2 separate regions of the Homo sapiens genome follow, and region 2 is linked to region 1. Evidence: fine-mapped expression QTL. A gene starts in region 1. The other region holds a variant in brackets. All regions are shown on one strand. Distances are from middle to middle.

Region 1 (10,676 bases):
ATTTGATTATTAATAAGGTAACATTTTAATGTATTTTGGTTTCATGTATAAATTATTAAATTATTTGGATTTACTGGAGTTAGTGTGTAAAGCAGTTTTCATCTTAAACCATATGGTCTTTATAATAAAATAAATATGATGGAAATGACCCACTTTGTATATTTAACAGCATTTTCTGTCAAAGCAAGAGCCCATAGTAAAATGAAAATAGGACTAACTGCATAATAGCAGAAATCAGGAAAGCCTTTTAAAGCAATTTATTTCCTTTGAAAATGATTAAATATGAAACTGAAGTTAAACATGCGGAGGAAAGGGAAGTAGGAAACAAAGGTGAAAAAACAGAATGTCCTGATTCAAACATTATCCATAAAATATGGATATGTTTAAAGACAAATCAGAATACAGGACATTCTAGTCACAAATTTATCAGAAAAACTGAGCTACTAGCTAAACTTTAACAGAATCAGGAATCCCAGTGACGGCCCAAAATAACTAGCACAGTTTTGTAACAGTTTTCTAGAATAAAATTATCTACTTGAAACAACAGTTTATAATACATTTAGCAATGCTTTTTTACAGCACATGATATGACAAGTGAATGACCTGTATTACAGGATCTAATTCATGCAGTTACACAGGAAAACTATATATGTAGGAATAGATATAAACATGTATAGATATACTGATTGATTTATTTATAAAATTCATGGTTTGATGGTTCTTTCTGACCCTGCAGGATTAAGAATACAATAAACCTGATATGTTAATGAGGCCAAAAAGAGCACTATAATTGGTTTAACATATATCAATAACCCAGACAATTAAAAATCCTTTAAAGTACAGTCAAGTTTAGTGTAAGTGATATGTCTGAGGTAGGGAGGATCAAGAGCTAACTTCTAGAAGTCTTGCAGCACAAGAAGGAAAGTAAATATACCATAATATAATTGTACCAGTGGTTATTTTTAGAAAAATTATAGATCTTTCTAGAACTAATAGGGGGTGTTCCTTGGAGCATTCATACAGAAGATACTATCTTAACACCAAAAAAAAGGAGGGAAAAAAAAAGCAAAAAAGAGAGCATGACTTCTGACAGTTAAGTTTTATTTTTACTGTCAAAAAAATTAAAATTATATGACATTCTTGGTTATGAGAAAATGTCCTTTTGTAGTAATTATTAAAATCTTATCTATAATTAACAAAAATTAGTTACTTACCTTGAACAATAAAATACAACTAAGGAGACAATGACTATAAACAGAGTTGGCCTTTATGCATAGCAAGCAACTGTCTCTGTGGTATGGAGTTTCCCAAAATATCTCCCACATGGGCCTATTCTTGATGCCTGAAATTCCTTTGTAGTTGGTGCCAGTCCAAAATGCAAAGAAAACTTATAGAACTCTTCATCTTAATTAAGAACACTATTTATTATAAACTAGCTTTTTAGGTTCTTTGAATTCTTTATAATGTAACACATAGCTAGAACATGTTTGAAGAACATGTTGAAAATTGAGCTCAGAGACAAGGAAAGACAGGAATACAGATATGAATACAAAAGTCTGGTTTGAGAGGCAAGATGAAAGAGCAGGGTACAACCCTTGGGAAAAAGCGGAAGGTGCTACAAAAATGAGAGACAGGGATGCATAAATGGGGTTTTGTAAGGAAAATAAGGATAAACTTTTCCCTACTCTACATTATATAGGGCTGGTTTCTTTTATAACCAGCCCTACCCATAAAAGAGAAGTAATCTTAGAAATAAATTGTATGGTATCATTAGCTAAAATAAATATTTAAGACTTAATAAAAAAACTTTGATTTATATATTTATATTTAAGAACTAAAGTTTTCCCCCCAAAATAACCTTTACAGACTTGTCTTTCAATTTTAACATGCACTTATTATAGAAAATTTGAAAAATATTACAAAGTATATAGAAAGATTAAAATCATCTCTAATCCCTTCAGCCTGTAATACCATTGTTAACACTGGGGAGGGATGTTGACTTTTAGGTTTTATCTGAGTGTAAAAAATATATATAACAAAATTTGGATATTACATTGTTTCATATCTTCATTTTTATGTAATGTTATATTGTGATCATTTTTCCATGCCACTTAATACTCTTCATGGTTTTAAGGTCATGATGAAAACTAGTGGTTTCTCAGTGTTTGTTATTTTGGTGAATTCTTTTGATTTTAAACCTACTTTTACAGCAAACTAAGGAAAATTATTTGAAACTCCCCTCATCTGAAAAGCATATACCAAGCACTGAATGCAGTCAAGATTTCTGCTCTGAATTAAACAGTCTGAAAAATTTTCATTTCTCTTATTCAAAACATTTAACTGGGAAAGTAAACAAATAACTGTTAAAACTGAAAAGGGTCCAAGTGTTGGATCTCTGTTTGAACCAATATTGCAAAAGGTAGACACATGTCACAGTACTTATACTGTGTGTATAAAATACTGTTTGACGTTTAACTACAAGTGGCGTTTAGAAATTCTGGCCCCTTTAGGCCTAGGAGCCAAATTAGGCCCTTGGTTTAATATCATTCAGCTGGCCTTCAGACTTTTTTTTTTAAAGACACAGTGTCTATTTCCTGCCCCATCCTTCAAAGATAGGAGAGATGCACACGCACGTGTGTATGTGTGTGTGTGTGTGTGTGTGTATAAATATTAATTATTTGACAGAAGCATCCAGTGATGAGACTTGAGGGCTGTTCTTACTTCCATAGCATTATTTGGGAAAGAAGCAGTAATTAGTCCCTCTGATGACAAATTTAGCGCTAGAAGGAAGAAACAGAACAAGCCCCAAAGTGAATATGGTGAGAAAAAAATGAGAAGCTTAGGAGGACATACGGAGATGTCCAATCTATCCAGTACTGTACAAGGCACAGGCTGGGCAGATGTTAATTTCGGGATGAAGGAGTCCTTAAGGAAGCAAGTTGGTCAAGAGAGGAAAGGTTCAGAAAAAGAATAGGTGGACAGTAGATATCGGTTAGCCATAGAAGTCAAATGTGCTTTGGTATCCTAGGAAATTTGGTTTACTTAGAAGGAAGACCATACGTCTAAGGTTGAACAAGCAGGATTTAATTTTTATGGAGGACCTACTGTGGTTTATACCACAGTATATATGTTAGCTCATTTCCTTCTTCACAACATAAGTGCTATTTATTTTTCTTGTGCAGATGAGGATACTGGGAAATCGGAGTGATTAAGAAACTACTTCAAGGGTACACAGCTAGTAAATGGTAAAAACAAGATGCACATATAAGTCTTTCTGCAAAAACTGTATGCCTTTTCTACAATACCAAGGTGAATTAAATTGCAGAACTTAGTCTAATACTTTTAACCACATTATAATTTCATAAAGCAATCTACTTTCAGCTAACACAAAAGAAAGATACATTAAGTGAAAGAACAGTACAAGGGTGGGAAGACATTTAGAACAGCAATATCACTGAAAAAATTTAAACATAATTATAAATTATTTTCAGTAAAATAACAGTGCCTAAAATTTCAAAGCATTTCTAGAAACAATCTAAAGAGTGCTCTTTTTGTCTAATGAGAAACAAAGTTTTCATTATTTTCCTCTCAAAAGTGATTTGGTATCAATCATTAGAGTGATTCATATGAGAAAGTCTTTCTTCCTCCTCAAAAATAACCAGACAGTGTATTTTAAATTTCAAAGTAATTTTGATAGAAAGTATGAATTAAGTGAACTTAAAAGTTCCAGGGTTATTTTACTTTTAAGCAGTAACATGCCCTTATAAGGTGAAAAACAGTACATAGTACATTATACAGATATATTTTCTATTAGTATATTCAAAGAGTCAACTACAAGAGTAACAGATGATGTCTCATTTTAGTTACATTCTTGAGAGAATTCGTTTTGTTTAGGGTTTATTATTCAAAGCCAACACAGAATTTTTTATTTTACTTTCTAAAAAAGTTTTATTTAAATGGTGAAAACCCTACTTTAGGGTAATATAATCAAGATACATATAATAAGGAAAGTACTAATAAATAAAAGCTATACTATTGGTTTCCCAAAACGCAATGTTTTTGAACATCAGTGGAAAATGTGGATGCTTATTACGAAATCTTCAGTTCTGAATTTTGATTATGAAAAGTAACCACATTTGATCATCTTTTCAATGACTTTCACGTGATCCACGCTTTATGCTTTAGGGAAGCAAGAAAATGTTAGGTTATATAATTCAATTTTACTTAATAACGCATAATAAAATCTGGATTTAGAAAACAGAATAGGGGTTTATTTGCAGTACTGAAGGTTCGCTGTCTTTACAATAAAATTGACTTAAACATTCAAGTATTTGAACATCCTAGTTCCTTTAAATTAAGAATACTCAAGAGTTACCCGGTGGCTCACGCCTGTAATCCCAGCACTTTGGGAGGCCGAGGCGAGCGGAACACTTGAGATCAGGAGTTCGAGACCAGCCTGGACAGCATGGTGAAACCCTGTCTCTATTAAAAATACAAAACATTAGTCGGGCGTGGTGTCGCGCACCTGTAATCCCAGCTACTCGGGAGGCTGAGATAGGAGAATTGCTTGAACCTGGGAGCCGGAGGTTGCAGTGAGCCGATAGGCACTGCACTCCAGCCTGGGCAACAGAGCAAGGCTCTGTCAAAGAAAGAAAGAAAGCAAAGGAAGGAAGGAAAGGTAAGAAAAGAAAATAAAGAAATATACTCTTTAATATAAATTCACCTCATACTAGCAACTTAGGTATTGAACACCTGCAATATACGTAATCAAACTTTCCAATAATGAGAACATCTTGCACATCCACAGGTATTTCCAAGAATTGAGGCACAACGGAATAACATAAACCAAAAAGTCCACAAGGTGCATTGTCTGTCACACATACATTGTAAATTCAGTTCAAATGTTCATTCCCAATATTTCAACAACAACAACAAAATTTTTTAATAAAGTCATTCGTCAAAAAAGAGGCTGGCGCCTCCAAAATCAAGCTCCATCTAACTCCTGAGTCAAATAATGATATGAAGTACCCGAGACGGACCAATTTTTTTTTTGTCAATATTTAATCTGAGGCTTTGGAAGTGGAAGAAATCTTAAAATAGCCACTCAGTCTTGTTTCCAGCCTTCAGGCAGCTGAAATATAAACCCCAGGAACACAGACCCTCCCTTCAGCGAAAAGTGTATGTGTGTATGTTTGTGTTTAAAGGCCTATAGCAGTCAGAGATAGGATCACTGCCGTTTTAGCAGTTTAAAAAAAAAAAATTCTACTAGAGAGGAAAGAATGACACAATTTTCTTCGTCACAGGAAAGTGGGCCTGGGGTATCCCAGCCACCTTCGCAGACGCTAAGTTATGGAAAGCAGCCAAAATTCTGGTATCAGGATGAGGCGTCCCCATGGGTTCTATGGAAACGAGAGACGCGGGGGGCCTAGCGCCTTCCAGGCGGCGGGCCGAGCGGCAGAGCTGCGCAAGCAGAAGCGGGGGAAGTGGCTCAGCCCAGTACTGCAGAGGGGCGCTCGGTGGCAGTCCCCGCAGCGGCACGGGCGAAGCGTCGCGGGGTCTGCAGCTGCAGCCCACCAACTCCGGCGCCGAGCGCGAAGTCGGGAGAGCTGGAACGAACTGCAGCTGGAGAAAGCGCGAGAGCCAGACACCGCTGCCGCTCACCCCAGCCGCTTCCTTCCTAGCCTCACAGCCGGGAGGCAGAAACTTCGGAGGTACCGCCCGGCGAAGAAACATCCCCACAGAGACAGAATACACTGTGTCTTCCTAGCTGAGCCCCTTTACCTTCCCGGTGTCTGGGATGCTTCCTTCGGTGGCAGCGGCGGCAGGGGCGACGACTGCCGCTGCAGCACTCAACTGCTTCACGAATCCGGGCTCTGGGAAACAATTTCCCGCCGCGCGCTAGGCAGCCCCGGAAGCGATAGTACCATTTCCGGGTGGTTGTCAGTGACGCTCCGGAGCCGTCGCCAGGGTGGTAATACCTGGTGCAGAGCTTGAGTCTGGCCAGCGGGTCAGGCTCTTGCTAGATCAGCACCGGAGGTGGAAGACTGGTAAGTGATTTTACTGGGTTTTCTCCTGCGCCTGATATTAATGGCTGGCCGGGGCTCTGTGCAGCATTATGGCCAGCCCGAGAAGTGAGTGGGCGAGGGTGGAACCAGAAGGAGTCCCCATCAAACCCCGTGGCGCTTGACACCCAGTGCAGCTGGAGAAGGCCCTGGGATCCCGGCTTACCGTCTTATCCACTCGCAAAATCTGTCTCCGACTTGGAACTCGACCTCGGGTCACCAAGTGTCCCTGGGCGAGGCCGAAGACACCGTGTACCGTGACTCGGCGTTGTGCCGAGTTTCTCTACCAATGATCAACGAGTTTCCTATCTCCCATTGGCAGCGTTTGGCCACTCTTGATTCCTGAGTACTGTTTCCGTAGTTCTGGGGTGCCGTGCCTGGAAGGCAGGAGGTTGGCTGAAGAAGACATCTTTTACAAACATTTAGGAAGTGAGATGGGGAGGTTCCTTCCTGATTTAGAATTAATTGAAGGTTCCTCCCGCCATTTGAATTGGATGAGAAGAACGGTCTTTGTTTTCATGGCTGAGACATAAGAGAACAAGCTTGTAATTTCATGCTTGGGCATTAGATGCATTTTTGGAAAGCAGTGATCAGTAAGTATGTGTGCTTTCAGAAAGGAATGCTTGCGTTCTGCTCCAGGCTTTGTCGATAATGAAGGATTCAGGAGAATTTTGGATGGAGGTCTGAGGTAGCCAGAATAGTTGTAAAGAGAAATTGCTTCCGACAAAGGGATAATGTGAGGAAAGGTGCTCATTTAAGATTTGAAAGATGTGATGTAGTGAACCTTGGCGACTTCTCTTAAGTAATGCAATTTCTTAGGTAACTAGTTTTCACTTGCCACCTTATATTTAGATAATTACCTCCCCACCAACCCCCGTAAAAGGCAGCTGACTGTTATTTTTTCAAAACAGTCAGTTCCCGAAAGAGTTGTAGGTACTATTGCATTTTTTTTATGGGTATGCTCCTCATACCCATAAAAACATTTTCTTTATCGGAGCATACCGATAAAGAAAAATGCAATATGTTCAATTCAAGGCCCCTGTTAACACCAGGCCAGTGTCTTCTTAACCTTTTGAGAGTAATGCAACAAACCATATTTAGGACAGCACATTGATTTTCTGGCCTTGTTGGTTAATAATTCAACAAACTTATAATCGCCCCATTAATCCCAATCTTGACATTTTGTTGAATCTTGTATTTTTTCTTTATTTCTCCAGTTGAAAGTATTATAAATTACTTCAGGGATATTATGTATTATATCTGTACAGCAACTAGTTTTTAGAGGCAGTGATTTCTCTCTTTGAATTGCTCTTGAATGTAGCCAATCATTAATACTTACCCCAAGTAGATACTGTCTGCCAGGCACTTTACATTTATTATTTTATTTAATGTTTAATAAAAAAAGAAAATCACAAAAATTGTATTATTTCTATTTTGCAAAACATTTTATACTGAGACCCAAAGAGGTTGTGATTTTCCATAAATTATACAATTAAATGGCACAATTAAAATTTGAATCCAGTCTACCTGACTCTAAATTTTGGCTCTTTTTACTGTGCTCTATACCTTTATAAGTAAACATAACAGTATCATTATTTTCACTCCAGGTAAAAATGGATAGATAGTATGTCACATTTAGAAATCAAGTGGATAGCAAAACTTGAGGATAAAAGGGACTTAAGGGATGTGTTCATCACCATAAGGTAATTTTGACATCTAAATAATGCAGTTTCTTTAGTGCCTTTATCCTTGGCCAGTTTTATTATCCTAATTCAAACAAATGCCTATACTGTACATTAGCATAACACTTGGGGCAAATGCAGAAGATCTGGAGACCATCAGCAAGCATATTGGTGACTGAGTCCAGAGTATCAGCTAACTATCTCTTTAGACAGCTTTTCACACACACATTTGTATACATGTATATTTGTGTGTGCATGTGTGTGTGTGTGTGTAGGGAGAAAGAATGAGTAAATGAGCACAAATTCATAAAATTCAACTTTGTAATGATTTATAAGGAATTATTAGCAAAACTGTGCTGTTCCACTCACGTAACCCTCAAACAGATGGGGATTATCACATAGTTTCAGGAATATGCTTTATTAAACCTGCCCATCCCAATACCCAATTCTATATAGAGAAACAGAAATAGCCTAATTTTCAGAGAATTTACAAAAATTTAGTTGAAATGACCAATACTAGAAATGACATAGAAGTTAATTCTAAAGAATATCCTGTTTTACAACTGTATAGGTATAGCTAGCCTGAAATACTAATGTGTATTTGATTACATTGCATTGACTTGTAGGCAGATCCCGTAGGCAGATCTCAGGGATATTTTGCTATCAAATTTCAGTGCTTATGAAGTTTGGGATTATGTCTGTTTTGTTCGTCATCTCAAACCCAGCATCTAGCACTGTGCCTGGCGTGTAATAGAAGCTCAATAAATAAGTCAGGAACCATGACTCATGACTGTAACCCCAATACTTTGGGAGGCTAAGGCAAGAGGATTTGAATCCAGATCCTCTAAATTTTGGCTCTTTTTACTATGTTCTATACTTCCTTTAATAAATAAACATAGGTCACAGTGAACTATGATCATACTACTGCACTCTAGCCTGCACAACAGAGTAAGACCCTGTCTCTAAAAAATAAAAAATAAGCATTTATTGAATGAATGATTCCTTTTTAAAATGTTATTTATCCACCGAGAAGTATTTGTACATTTTTTAAAGGATTTACCACATAAATAAATATTTATTTTTACTCACCTTGCCCCTGAAATACAGTGTCCACTCCACACTCATTCATAAAAGGCAATGTGCTGTCCTGCAAAGAAGACTGGACTGTGAGACAGGAGATGAGAGAATATCTAATATTTTTCTGTGTTTATTCTCTGCTATTCAGTGTTAAATTACTCCTTACAGCACAGTGGGTAAGTATTATTATCCTCCTTTTACAGATGCTAAAACTGAGGCAAAGATAAGCTTTGTAAATTGTCGTAGGTTACGCATAGTCATTAAACACAGCTATGATTTGAATGAAGGGCTCTGATCCCAAAAGCGATAATCTTAACCACTTTGCTAGCCTCCAGTTGAATTTTTAATCCTGGTTCAGCTGCTAAATGTGTGCAAAAGCTCTGGGTATCATGTTTCTCATCTATAACATATAGGAGTTTGATGGATTATATTATCTGTAAGGTCCCTCCTACCTCAAAAATCCTCTGACTTTAGTTGACTCCTAAGTATTATCTGAATATAGCAGTTCTGGAGTGCCAGAAAACCCTCATCAATTTTGATGTGTTTTATGTAAGCTTTTATATGTGTTCACGTCTTCCACATTGGTGGACACACAATCATGTTTTTGCAATAGGAAGAATAGAGTTAAAAAAATCACAGCCATGCTTTTTTTTTTTTTTTTACCAGCTATGACACTAATAAGTCACTGAACCTTTGTGAGCTTATGTTTTCATATGTAAAATGGATCCATAGGATTGCTGTGAGCGTTAAGTGGGTTGACTTATAAAGCCTCAAACGTGTTGTCTGATACACAATTGCTGATAAATAAATATTGATTCTTTTTCTTGCTCAGTCTTGCAAGGATAAAAGATTAGTGGATATGAAAAATGCTTTATAAATTAGACAAAGGTGAAGAATATTTTCACTTACAGTCTACTAGGAGAGAGAAAGTTATATAAACAAATAATTATATGTAGGGCAATTTACATACATCATTGAACACAAAACATGGGAATGCAAAGAAAAGAGATTTTTTTTTTTCCAGGAGGGCAGATGAGGAAAGACCTCATAAAAAAGGTAATATTGAGTTTGTGCCATATAGGATGGAAAGGATTTTGGCAGGGGAACAAGAGGGACAAGTGTTCTACTGGAAGATGCAAAGGTGTCAGAAAACAGAAATAGTACCTAGGTCACTTTGGCTATGTAAGATGGATGAAGGCTGGTAATAAAGCTGAGGTAAAAAGCTGAGTTTAGGACAAGCTGTAGATAACTGTGGGCAAGTTAGAGATGTTAGGCTTTTAACGATAAGCAATAATCTGTGTGTATAACTAGGATGGGGTGGAGGATGGAGTTGGCATTTGTTTTCTTTGTTATGGAAAAACGCCCATTTGTTACAGAAACATTAGAGTGTACAAATATGCCAAAAAGGAAAGAGAAAGGAAGAGTGGCCCATGACCCCACCACTCAGAAATAACTTATGATTTTTCTCTGTATTACAGATTTGCATATATGTGCTTTTAAAATAAAAATGAAATAATACTGTCTATATTGTCTTGTGACCTGCTTTTTTCAATGTGCTATACCATGAATTTTTCCATGTCAATAAATTTGCTTCTATAAAATAATACTTAGGGCCTGTATGCTATTCAATTTTATGAATATGTTATAACTTTTAAACTGACTTCTTTCTGTTAAGTAATAGTACAATAAAGGTTTTTATAGTAAAATATTTAGACATATTCGTATCTATTTTCTTATTACAATTTGTAGAAGGAGAAATGGTCACCCACAGGATATGAACACATATAATACTTACATGTATTGCCATATTAATCAAATTTTTAATTGAAACTTGGTGCAAAATTCATAAGGTATG
Region 2 (10,676 bases), 760 kb after region 1:
AATCTGGCTTTGGTTGAAAAAAATTCTCATAACTGGACCCACACAGTTCATCCCTCTGTTTTTTTCTCTCCATTCATATTCTGAAGTGGCCTCTCTTCTGGCCTTTTCCTCAGCAGCTGCGTGTATGTGGGTTTCTGTGTGTGTGTGGGTGTATATGTGTATGTTTATTAGGCAGGGAAAGGTATAAGTGCCCAATAAGTAATTTAGGCTTGCACCTAAAAGTTAGTTGAAAACACTGTTCCTCCCATAATCAATTTTAAGAACTAAGGGGAAGAATATAAATTTGAAAATCTTGGTGCATTATATCTGAATTGTGACATTAACGGTACTTCATTCACTTCTAATGTTCTTTATTTTGACTTCACAGAGGAGAGTGAAAAAATTCCCTCAGAAATTCTTGTACAGACTGCTGATAAAATGATGCCATCAAAGAAAGGCCAATTGAAGATTGCTTGTATTATCCTCTTTTTTCATTGGTCCTAAAACCTTTTATCACATTTTAACATCTCTGAATTTGGGATGCATCTTAAGAATTAATAGCATATTATAGATTATTTAGCAACGTTTTTTCTCTTAATTATACTTTTAGTTGCATAACTCTTAAGGGGACATAATTCTTACTAGCAACCCCTGGAGTTGTGCTGTGTATACACTGAGTGCCCTTATGGGGCAGCCCTCATAGCGATAAGGTGGACATTCATTGTTTTTCCTACCTTTTAACCTCATATTTGACCTCACAAATTGTATAAATATCACCTGCCTACTATTCGGCAAGTAGTGACTCCTCCATAAATGTTGATTTACTTATTTATGCATCATTATAGTCAGTTTTGTTCCTTTATTTCCCAAAGCAGACTGAGAACAGGTTTGAATTCTTTCAGTACTGGATGTCATATTATTAAGAAGAGGTAGATCTTTAGATGATAAATATAGATGATAAAGCTAGGAAGTAAATGGCCAGATTAAATAAAGATGTTAGCCCCAAGTGTCCTAATTGTTTCCGTATGCTTTTTGCTTTTAAAACTTCTTTTAGTACTTTCAAGATACCTGAAATAACTAGTAGTGTGATAAAAGTACAATGCCAGTTATAGGTTACATTGTCTTAGTATACCTTCATCGATTATGTACCATGTCACAAGTGCTAGATATTAAAGATAAAAGGAGAAGAATAAAGCATGTAATTTCTACTCACATGAAATTATCCAGGATCGGCTGGGCGCGGTGGCTCATGCTGTAATCCCAGCACTTTGGGAGGCCGAGGCGGGCGGATCACAAGGTCAGGAGATCGAGACCGTTCTGGCTAACAAGGTGAAACCCCATCTCTATTAAAAATACAAAAAATTAGCCAGGCATGGTGGCAGGCACCTGTAGGCTCAGCTACTCAGGAGGCTGAGGCAGGAGAATGGCGAGAACCCGGGACGCAGAGCTTGCAGTGAGCCGAGATCGCGCCACTGCACTCCAGCCTGGGCGACAGAGAGACTCCGTCTCAAAAAAAAAGAAATTAGCCAGGATGATACATCAAGATATCAAATGTGTCTTGAAACTGAAGATGTGTATCCTGTTTAGTAGCACATGTTGGAACAGATCTCTTCACATTTCATTTCAATAGCTGAGTACTATTTATAAAATATTGTGCTGGCCCTCTGTAAGAAATAGAGATAGAAAAGCCAGAATCCCTCTTTACCAGGAGCTCACAGTATATAACAGGGAGGCTACGATATTCATAAGCAACTCTAATATTAGGCAGATTACAGTATGTACTTTGACATCATTCATATGTTATAGGATTTTAGGAAAATTTTATTTTTCAATGGGAAATTGAAAGTCCTTCACAACTAGTGATATATCATTAGTAATAAAAGTTCAATACTTAGAGATTGTTATAAACCACATTGAATTTTAAAATTTGAGACTATATACATTTTCTGTACTAAATACAACTTATCATTGCAATGAGAACCTCAATTTTTGTGCAAATTGTTTCTATAAGAATTTTTTTACATAAGGTTATGTAGCATGATTGTTTTGTTGAATAATATAAACCATTTCAAAATTTGGCACTTAAAAGGAATTAGTTTGTTGGATGTTTTTAACACATTCTGAAAACTGAAATACTTCAATTTCCAGTAATGTGGTGGTATTTATCAATGATACTTAAAATTGTTTTGCCTTTACTTTTAGTTCAAATGAAGCTAATCAAACATATAAGGAGCATTTAAAACCTGTCACAACCATTTAATATCCCTTAACTAATTATTTTCTTCTTTTGCTTTCACCTCCTCCACCAAATGATATATTCATTGTGGTATATTCATTTTACAACACTCATTGTTTAGGAGAAATAATGTAATAATTAATAATTGCACTTAACCTTTTAATAAGGTTTTACAGTTCATTAAACATTTTCACCTACATTTTATCTTTTAGGAAATATAATATGAAGTTAATGATTAGCAGTTTTCATTAAAAACCATTATTTCTGTTTAGATTTTTTACATTTTCTTAATTGCTTGTGATACTATTGACATTTGTTAGGTAGATCCTCTTACAGTGTCTGGCACATAGTGGGTACACCAAATATTAGTTAAATGACAGGGTGATCGATACATTTTTTGTTTTGACAAATATGGCAAGCTGATATTCTTATGGGCAAACCAATACAGTGGAATCTAGTGACTAGAGAAAATAAATACTTTTTTAAGACTCTAAAAAACTAAAACAAAAAATTTTAAAATTTTAAAGAAAATATTTAAAAATATATTTATGAAGATATGTGTCATATTTCTTTCAATGGATAATTTTAAGTGATATTAAATTATGTCAATAGTTTGAATAGCAATAGCAACCATTGAGCTAAAATTATGCAACAAATAGTTGCTTGTTAACCTAAGATATTTCAACATTTTTGAAAGATTAGTAATAAAACATGCCATATTTAAAAAGCCTTAATGTGAATCTTCTCTCCACTGTAGTTCAGGGGACACTCAGGATGCTAGAGTAATGCTATAAAAAAAGCCACTCAGACAGGTGCAGTGGCTCACACATGTAATCCCACCTACTCAGAAGACTGAGGCCGGAGGATCACTTGAAGCCAGGAGCTCAAGAACAGCCTGGGCAAAATAGCAATACCCTCCTCTCTAAATATATATAAATATATATATATAGATAATTAGTTGGGCATGGTAATGTGCCGGTAGCCCCAGCTACTCGGGAGGCTGAGGTGGAAAGATGGCCCAGGAATTTGAGGCTACAGTAAACTATCTCACTGCACTCCAGCCTGAGCGACAGAATGAGACTCCATCTTTTAAAAAAAAAGGCACTGAAATGACCCCATCAAATCCAACCAGCTATGCCAGGCTCTATTTCCATCCTATTTCTGAGGAGTTTTTGTCCTTGCTGGGTTTCCTTTGGCTTCATACCCAGATTCTGCTTGCCCTATATAACATGGATGGTCTGTCTGTCCTTTGTTCAGTACCTGCTCAAGATGCCACTTGCCCAGAGCTAGAGCCCACGAGGCAAGGGGCATCTCTTCTCTCACTGGTCAAAGGTAGGTGGTTGGAAGTGGATATTCTGGATTCATCTCTCCAGGCCCTTACTTCTAGGAAAACAAACAAACAAAAACAAGCAGTTTCTCTAAATTAATATGTTAATATAATTCTAAAAATTAGCACAGAAAAATTACCCATTTAATTTATAATGGTTTTTTAAGACATTTGGAAGGAAATATTTCTTTCATAATACTCAAACACTTAAAGGTTGAACATTATAAAGAAGCATCAGTATTATCAGAGATTTTTCAAGATTCTGTTAAATTCTAAACATCATCTAGAAAGTTCTTGTCTTATATCTAATACCTAACCTTAATGTCCCCTCCTTTGTTAAAACTTTTCTTGACTCTCTCTCTTCCCGTGCCTGTACAAAGACATGCATGTGCATGGGAACACACACACACATACACAAACACACACACACACTAGTAATCACAGCCTCCCTTTTGCCAGCATGTATATAACATAATTTTTAGCATTTTCCCACATTAAAGAAATAATTGAAAGCTTATATATTTATTCCCCAAAGTAGATATCTAATTATTTAAAAGAAAGGCTTATATTTAATGCATCTATGTTTTCAGGGCTTGAATAAAAGTCTGTTTAGCAAGGTTTTCTTTGATGGAATTATTTGATTCATACTGGAATCTCTGGTTCATTTTTCTGTTTACAGAAGTAAGTTCAGATTGTAGTATATTGCACAGATTGTCCAGGTAAACCTGGTTAAGACTTTCAGGGGAACTTATTTTTGCTGCTATTGTGATGTGGAAATGCTGTTACTACTTCAGTAACACTGATATAATGTATGTACTTATTAACAAGAAATGTGTAGATAGTAGCTCCAGTACTTGAAGCATCATTAAATTTGAATGAATTTTCTATTTGTAAATATACTCTGTCATAAATACCATTGAATATATTTCACTATGTAATAAATTTTAAAATCAAGGAAGTAATAAATCATAACATTTAATTTTAAGATTAAGAATATTGGCAAAGATTTGTTTATTTTTACCTGTCTTTATTCAAATGTTCTAATATACATTAGTTCCAAGTTCTCTATTACTTCTAAATAGAATATACATGATCAAAAGAGTATGCCTCTTTCTAAATGAGAAAAACTTTATATTATAAATCCAGTGATACGGATACTATCCATCATTTTGTTTTGTATGGCCTAATGTATATCAGTAAACTAAATAGACTTAAATGTGGCTGGATTTTGACTGGGAATATGGGAAGAACAAAGCAGGTGAGATCATGTATGTGACTAAATATAGCGTTGATGCTTAACGATGGCCTCTGAGCATGTTAGTGTAACTTATATTTTGCAGCCAAAAACTGTATGTATCAAGCTCCAACCATCTATAATAAAGTTTATGGTTCAGTTCTAAGATTGCTAACCAAGTGATTTTTTTTTCAGAGACGTTAAAGAAAAAGTACCTTCAACCAATAAATTCTTAAACATTTCATCAAATAGTTATTGAACAGCACTGTGCTAGGCACGTGGGATGTGAAAATCAAAGAACACATGACCCTACCCATAGCAACTCAGTGATAACAATGATAAAGGACTATGCTAGATTCCACATCGTACCTGGAGTGGGGGCAGAAGTGGTACATAATCCAGTTAGGGGGTGAAGTGGAAAATCCAGGGCAAGTTTCGTGGAGGAAGTGATGCCTGAAATGTATCTCAAATAAGTTAGCAGAGCTAAA[A/T]AAAAAAAAAAAAAAAAGAAAAAAAGAGTAGAAGTTAAAGGGAATAAATGGAACCGGGTGTAGAAGGGTATTCAGAACAGAAGAAATTATATAAGCAAAGACAAAGAAGCAAGAAATAGTATGCATGTTTGGGTTCAGGAGAAGATGGTTTGACTAGAAAGTTTAACATTAGAAATAAAATTATTCCTTTACAAAAAAAGAAATACTTAAAAGAATATGTTGGTTTTCAAAACAGATATAGTGATTTTTGCTTAGTTGCTTATACATCTTGAAACCAAAACTGGAGTTCAGCTATTTATTGTGTTCATTTTAGCATAAGCATTACAAAGTCCTTCTCTAGTTAATCAGGTTCACACTTTGCAACTAAGAAAACAGAAGTGGGCCAGGCACGGTGGCTCACGCCTGTAATCCTAGCACTTTGGGAGGCCGAGGCAGGCGGATCATGAGGTCGGAAGATCGAGACCATCCTGGCTAACACCTCATCTCTACTAAAAATACAAAAAATTAGCCGGGCATGGTGGCAGGCGCCTATAGTCCCAGCTACTCAGGAGGCCGAGGCAGGAGAATTGCTTGAACCTGGGAGGCAGAGGTTGCAGTGAGCCGAGATCGTGCCACTGCGCTCCAGCCTGGGTGGCAGAGAGAGACTCTGTCTCAAACAAAAAAAGAAAAAAAAAAAGAAAGAAACAATCTTACCACTACCATAGAAAATTGACATGTGTTCACATCCTTCTCCCTGTCTTTCAGAGGTATGAATTTTGTCTTAATGTTCTTTTCCTTTTCATTATAGTTTACTAAATATGCATATTTTTCTAAATAACATGTTTATTATATTGTTTGGTTTTGCTTGCCTTTACTTTTATCATTTTTTTTTTACTTCTGGAATTTGCTTTTTTGTGTACGACATCCATTTATATGTTTAGCAGTAATTCATTTTTACCTCTATATGGCATTTATCCACTTTACTGTGGATGAACATTGTTGGTTTGCTTTCTAATGTTTTTGCTATTATAGTATAAGATTCTTTATTTTTTTTGAGATGAAGTCTCCCTCTGCTGCCCAGGCTGGAGTGCAGTGGCACGATCTTGGCTCACTGCAAGCTCCGCCTCCTGGGTTCATGTGATTCTCCTGCCTCAGCCTCCTGAGTAGCTGGGATTACAGGTGTGTGCCACAACACCCGGCTAATTTTTGTATTTTTAGTAGAGACGGGGTTTCACCATCTTGGTCAGGCTGGGCTCAAACTCCTGACCTCGTGATCCATCCACCTCAGCCTCCCCAAGTGCTGGGATTATAGGTGTGAGCCACTGCGCCTGGCCTATAAGATTCTAATGAACATTCTTAGGCATGCCTCCTGGGCTTCAGATGCCTCCTGGTGCTCTAGAATCTATACTTATTAGTAGAATTGTTGGGTCAGCTTTACTGGGTAATATCAAATTGTTTCCCAAAGTAGTTGTATGATTTATTCTGATCACCCATACATGGCTATTCCTGTTGTTTCACACCCTTCTCAAATCTTTGTGTTATCGTTACTGTTTAATATTTGCTAGCCTGGATACTATAATATGGTATCATATTGTGGTTTTAGTTAGCATTTTCCTTATTACTAGTTAGGTTGTATATGTTTTCGTTTTTCATTGGCCATCTATGATTCCTCATCTGTGAATTGCCTATTTATGTGTATGCTCATTTTGTTATTTTGAAAAAATCTTTTTTTACTGACTTGTAGGTGTTATTTACATATTGCAAGTCACTCTTCCACTCTTTGGCTTGTCTTTTTAAAAATATTTTAAAACATTCTTAATTTTAGTATAGGAAAATATATCTTTTTTTATATGGTTTATCCTTTAACATATTATTTAAAAAGTCCTTACCTAGCCTAGGTGATACAAATATATTCTCCTTTTTTTTTCATGTGCCTTAGAGTTTTTCCTTTCACATTTAGGTTTATATTCTGTCTAGAGTTAACTTTTACGTTTGGAGTTAGGTATGAATCCAATTTCCTTTTTTCCCGTATTGATAATTATCCTGACCCTATTTATTTGAGAGATCATCCTTCTTCAATAATATGTGTTTTAACCACTAGAAATTTGTTTTTATGCTTATTTTGTGGATAGGCATCATTAATTTTTTTCAAAATGGTTAATCAGTTTTCCTAATAGCATTTTTAAAATAATACATTCTTTTTTCACTGATTTGAAGTGCCACCTTTAACACAGATTGAATTCTTACATTCTTGCCTTTATTCCTGGGTTTTGTTCTATTCCTTTCAAATGTCTATCTACATGTGCCAGTGCTATTCTTATATAATTATTGAGATTTTATAGAACCTGCAGTATTTGGAAGTGTCTCATTTTAATCTTCTATCCTCTTCCTTCCTCACTCACTAATTTGAAGTTAGAATTTTAGCTCTATTATACTGCCACTACCAACAAGTCTTTTCCCTCTCTCCTCTTTTTCCTCTTCTTTCCCCTAATTTCTGTCTATATTAACAAAATGTTACATTATAAAGATGATCATTTTTACATTATAGTGTTTCTTTTTCTAGAAGAATTCTTTTACATTTGCAAGCAGGTAAATAACCATAACAATTATTTGTCATTTTAATATTTCACCTCTCACTGCCAATCTTTTTATGCTGTCACTTCAGGCATATATGCTTAATTTTACTTCCTAGGCCATTGAAATAGATGATGGGCTCTAGAAGTAGTTAAGAGTGTCAGTTTAGAAGTACAGTGTTAAGATGGCGAATGGCAGGATATGCCAATTGATTAGATAAAGGCTAAAGGAGATGGAGGAATATAAGTGGTCTCCCAGGACCTCTCTACTCCATTGGATTGTAATGACAATTAAGAAGTGAGGTGAGCAGGCCTGAGATGGCTATCCTTAGAAAAGCCTGCCTGCAAAGCTGGCCTTTGATTATCATCTGGGAATTTGGATTTCAGGAAGGTTTCTGGAACCCTAACTGACAAAGAATGGCTCATTGGGCCCAAAATGATTGTGCAAACAATGTGGTCTTTGCTGAACACTTGCTTTCCTTCTGGAAGTCTGGATTCTTGGTAAGGTGCTAGGTAGGAAGTGGCTATGTGACAAGCCTCCAGTAAGAACCCTGGGTTCTGAATCTCTAATGAGCTTCCCTGGTACACAACTTTTCACATGTGTTGTCATAATTTGTTGCTGGAGCAATTACGCACATCTTGTGTGACTCTACCAGGAGACGATTCTTGGAAGTTTGTACCTTGTTTCCTCTGGATTTTGCCTTATGTGCCTTTTCTCTTTGCTGATTTAGCTTTGGATGTTTTGCAGTAATAAATCATAGCCATTAGTATGACTAAAGAAAATAAGAAGTGAGGTATGTGAAGTCACTTTAAAGATTTATAAAATACATGTAATGTGGGGGCAGCCAAGATGGCCGAATAGGAACAGCTCCAGTCTACAGCTCCCAGCATGAGCGACGCAGAAGACAGGTGATTTCTGCATTTCCATCTGAGGTACCGGGTTCATCTCACTAGGGAGTGCCAGACCGTGGGCGCAGGACAGTGGGTGCAGCGCACCATGCGTGAACTGAAGCAGGACGAGGCATTGCCTCACTCGGGAAGCGCAAGGGGTCAGGGAGTTCCCTTTCCTAGTCAAAGAAAGGGGTGAGAGATGGCACCTGGAAAATCGGGTCACTCCCACCCTAATACTGCACTTTTCCGACGGGCTTAAAATACGGCGCACCAGGAGATTATATCCCGCACATGGCTCGGAGGGTCCTACGCCCATGGAGTCTCGCTGATTTCTAGCCCAGCAGTCTGAGATCAAACTGGAAAGTGACAGCGAGGCTCGGGGAGGGGCGCCCACCATTGCCCAGGCTTGCTTAGGTAAACAAAACAGTCGGGAAGCTCGAACTGGGTGGAGCCCACCACAGCACAAGGAGGCCTGCCTGCCTCTGTAGGCTCCATCTCTGGGGGCAGGGCACAGACAAACAAAAAGACAGCAGTAACCTCTGCAGACTTAAATGTCCCCGTCTGACAGCTTTGAAGAGAGCAGTGGTTCTCCCAGCACGCAACTTGAGATCTGAGAATGGGCAGACTGCCTCCTCAAGTGGGTCCCTGACTCCTGACCCCCGAGCAGCCTAACTGGGAGGCACCACCCAGTAGGGGCAGACTGACACCTCACACAGCCGGGTACTCCTCTGAGACAAATCTTCCAGAGGAACGATCAGACAGCAGCATTCGCGGTTCGTGAAAATCCGCTGTTCTGCAGCCAGCGCTGCTGATACCCAGGCAAATAGGGTCTGGAGTGGACCTCTAGCAAACTCCAACAGACCTGCAGCTGAGGGTCCTGTCTGTTAGAAGGAAAACTAACAAACAGAAAGGACATGCACACCAAGAACCCATCTGTACATCACCATCATCAAAGACCAAAAGTAGATAAAACCACAAAGATGGGGAAAAAACAGAGCAGAAAAACTGGAAACTCTAAAAAGCAGAGCACCTCTCCTCCTTCAAAGGAACGCAGTTCCTCACCAGTAACGGAACAAAGCTGGACAGAGAATGACTTTGATGAGTTGAGAGAAGAAGGCTTCAGATGATCAAACTACTACGAGCTACAGGAGGAAATTCAAACCAAAGACAAAGAAGTTAAAAACTTTGAAAAAAATTTAGCTGAATGTATAACTAGAATAACCAATACAGAGAAGTGCTTAAAGGAGCTGATGGAGCTGAAAGCCAAGGCTCGAGAACTACATGAAGAATGCAGAAACCTCAGGAGCTGATGCGATCAACTGGAAGAAAGGCTATCAGTGATGGAAGATGAAATGAATGAAATGAAGCGAGAAGGGAAGTTTAGAGAAAAAAGAATAAAAAGAAACGAACAAAGCCTCCAAGAAATATGGGACTATGTGAAAAGACCAAATCTACGTCTGATTGGTGTACCTGAAACTGACGGGGAGAATGGAACCCAGTTGGAAAACACTCTGCAGGATATTATCCAGGAGAACTTCCCCAATCTAGCAAGGCAGGCCAACATTCAGATTCAGGAAATACAGAGAACACCCCAAAGATACTCCTCGAGAAGAGCAACTCCAAGACACATAATTATCAGATTCACCAAAGTTGAAGGAAATAATGTTAAGGGCAGCCAGAGAGAAAGGTCGGGTTACCCACAAAGGGAAGCCCATCAGACTAACAGCGGATCTCTTGGCAGAAACCCTACAAGCCAGAAGAGAGTGGCTTGTACTCTGTATTGGTTATTCTAGTTATACATTCAGCTAAATTTTTTTCAAAGTTTTTAACTTCTTTGTCTTTGGTTTGAATTTCCTCCTGTAGCTCGTAGTAGTTTGATCATCTGAAGCCTTCTTCTCTCAACTCATCAAAGTCATTCTCTGTCCAGCTTTGTTCCGTTACTGGTGAGGAACTGCGTTCCTTTGAAGGA

Direction of the effects. Alleles are on the strand shown, and positions count from the first base shown. SD is a standard deviation of normalised expression in the study named.
For the expression in CD4 T cells of the gene that starts at base 5,943 in region 1, allele A in region 2 goes with a lower level than allele T (large effect, 1.5 SD a copy in BLUEPRINT).

Evidence for each region. PIP is the estimated chance that this variant, and not a neighbour inherited with it, causes the effect.
Region 2: its variant is fine-mapped to the expression of KIAA0825 in CD4 T cells (BLUEPRINT, PIP 0.95).

Annotation. Positions count from the first base shown.
Region 1 is chr5:94,613,871-94,624,546 of GRCh38, reverse strand. KIAA0825 reads left to right here and starts at 5,943. Exons shown (of 21, transcript NM_001145678.3): 1 at 5,943-6,047. SLF1 (SMC5/6 complex localization factor 1) reads right to left here and starts at 5,878. Exons shown (of 21, transcript NM_032290.4): 1 at 5,782-5,878. RefSeq lists enhancers at 5,157-5,266, 5,657-5,836, 6,147-6,326, 6,065-6,929.
Region 2 is chr5:93,855,914-93,866,589 of GRCh38, reverse strand. The region is part of intron 7 of ARB2A (ARB2 cotranscriptional regulator A); the gene reads left to right. Among named protein-coding and RNA genes, the nearest start is that of POU5F2, 120 kb to the right of the region's middle. The variant A/T (reference allele first, on the strand shown) is at 5,265.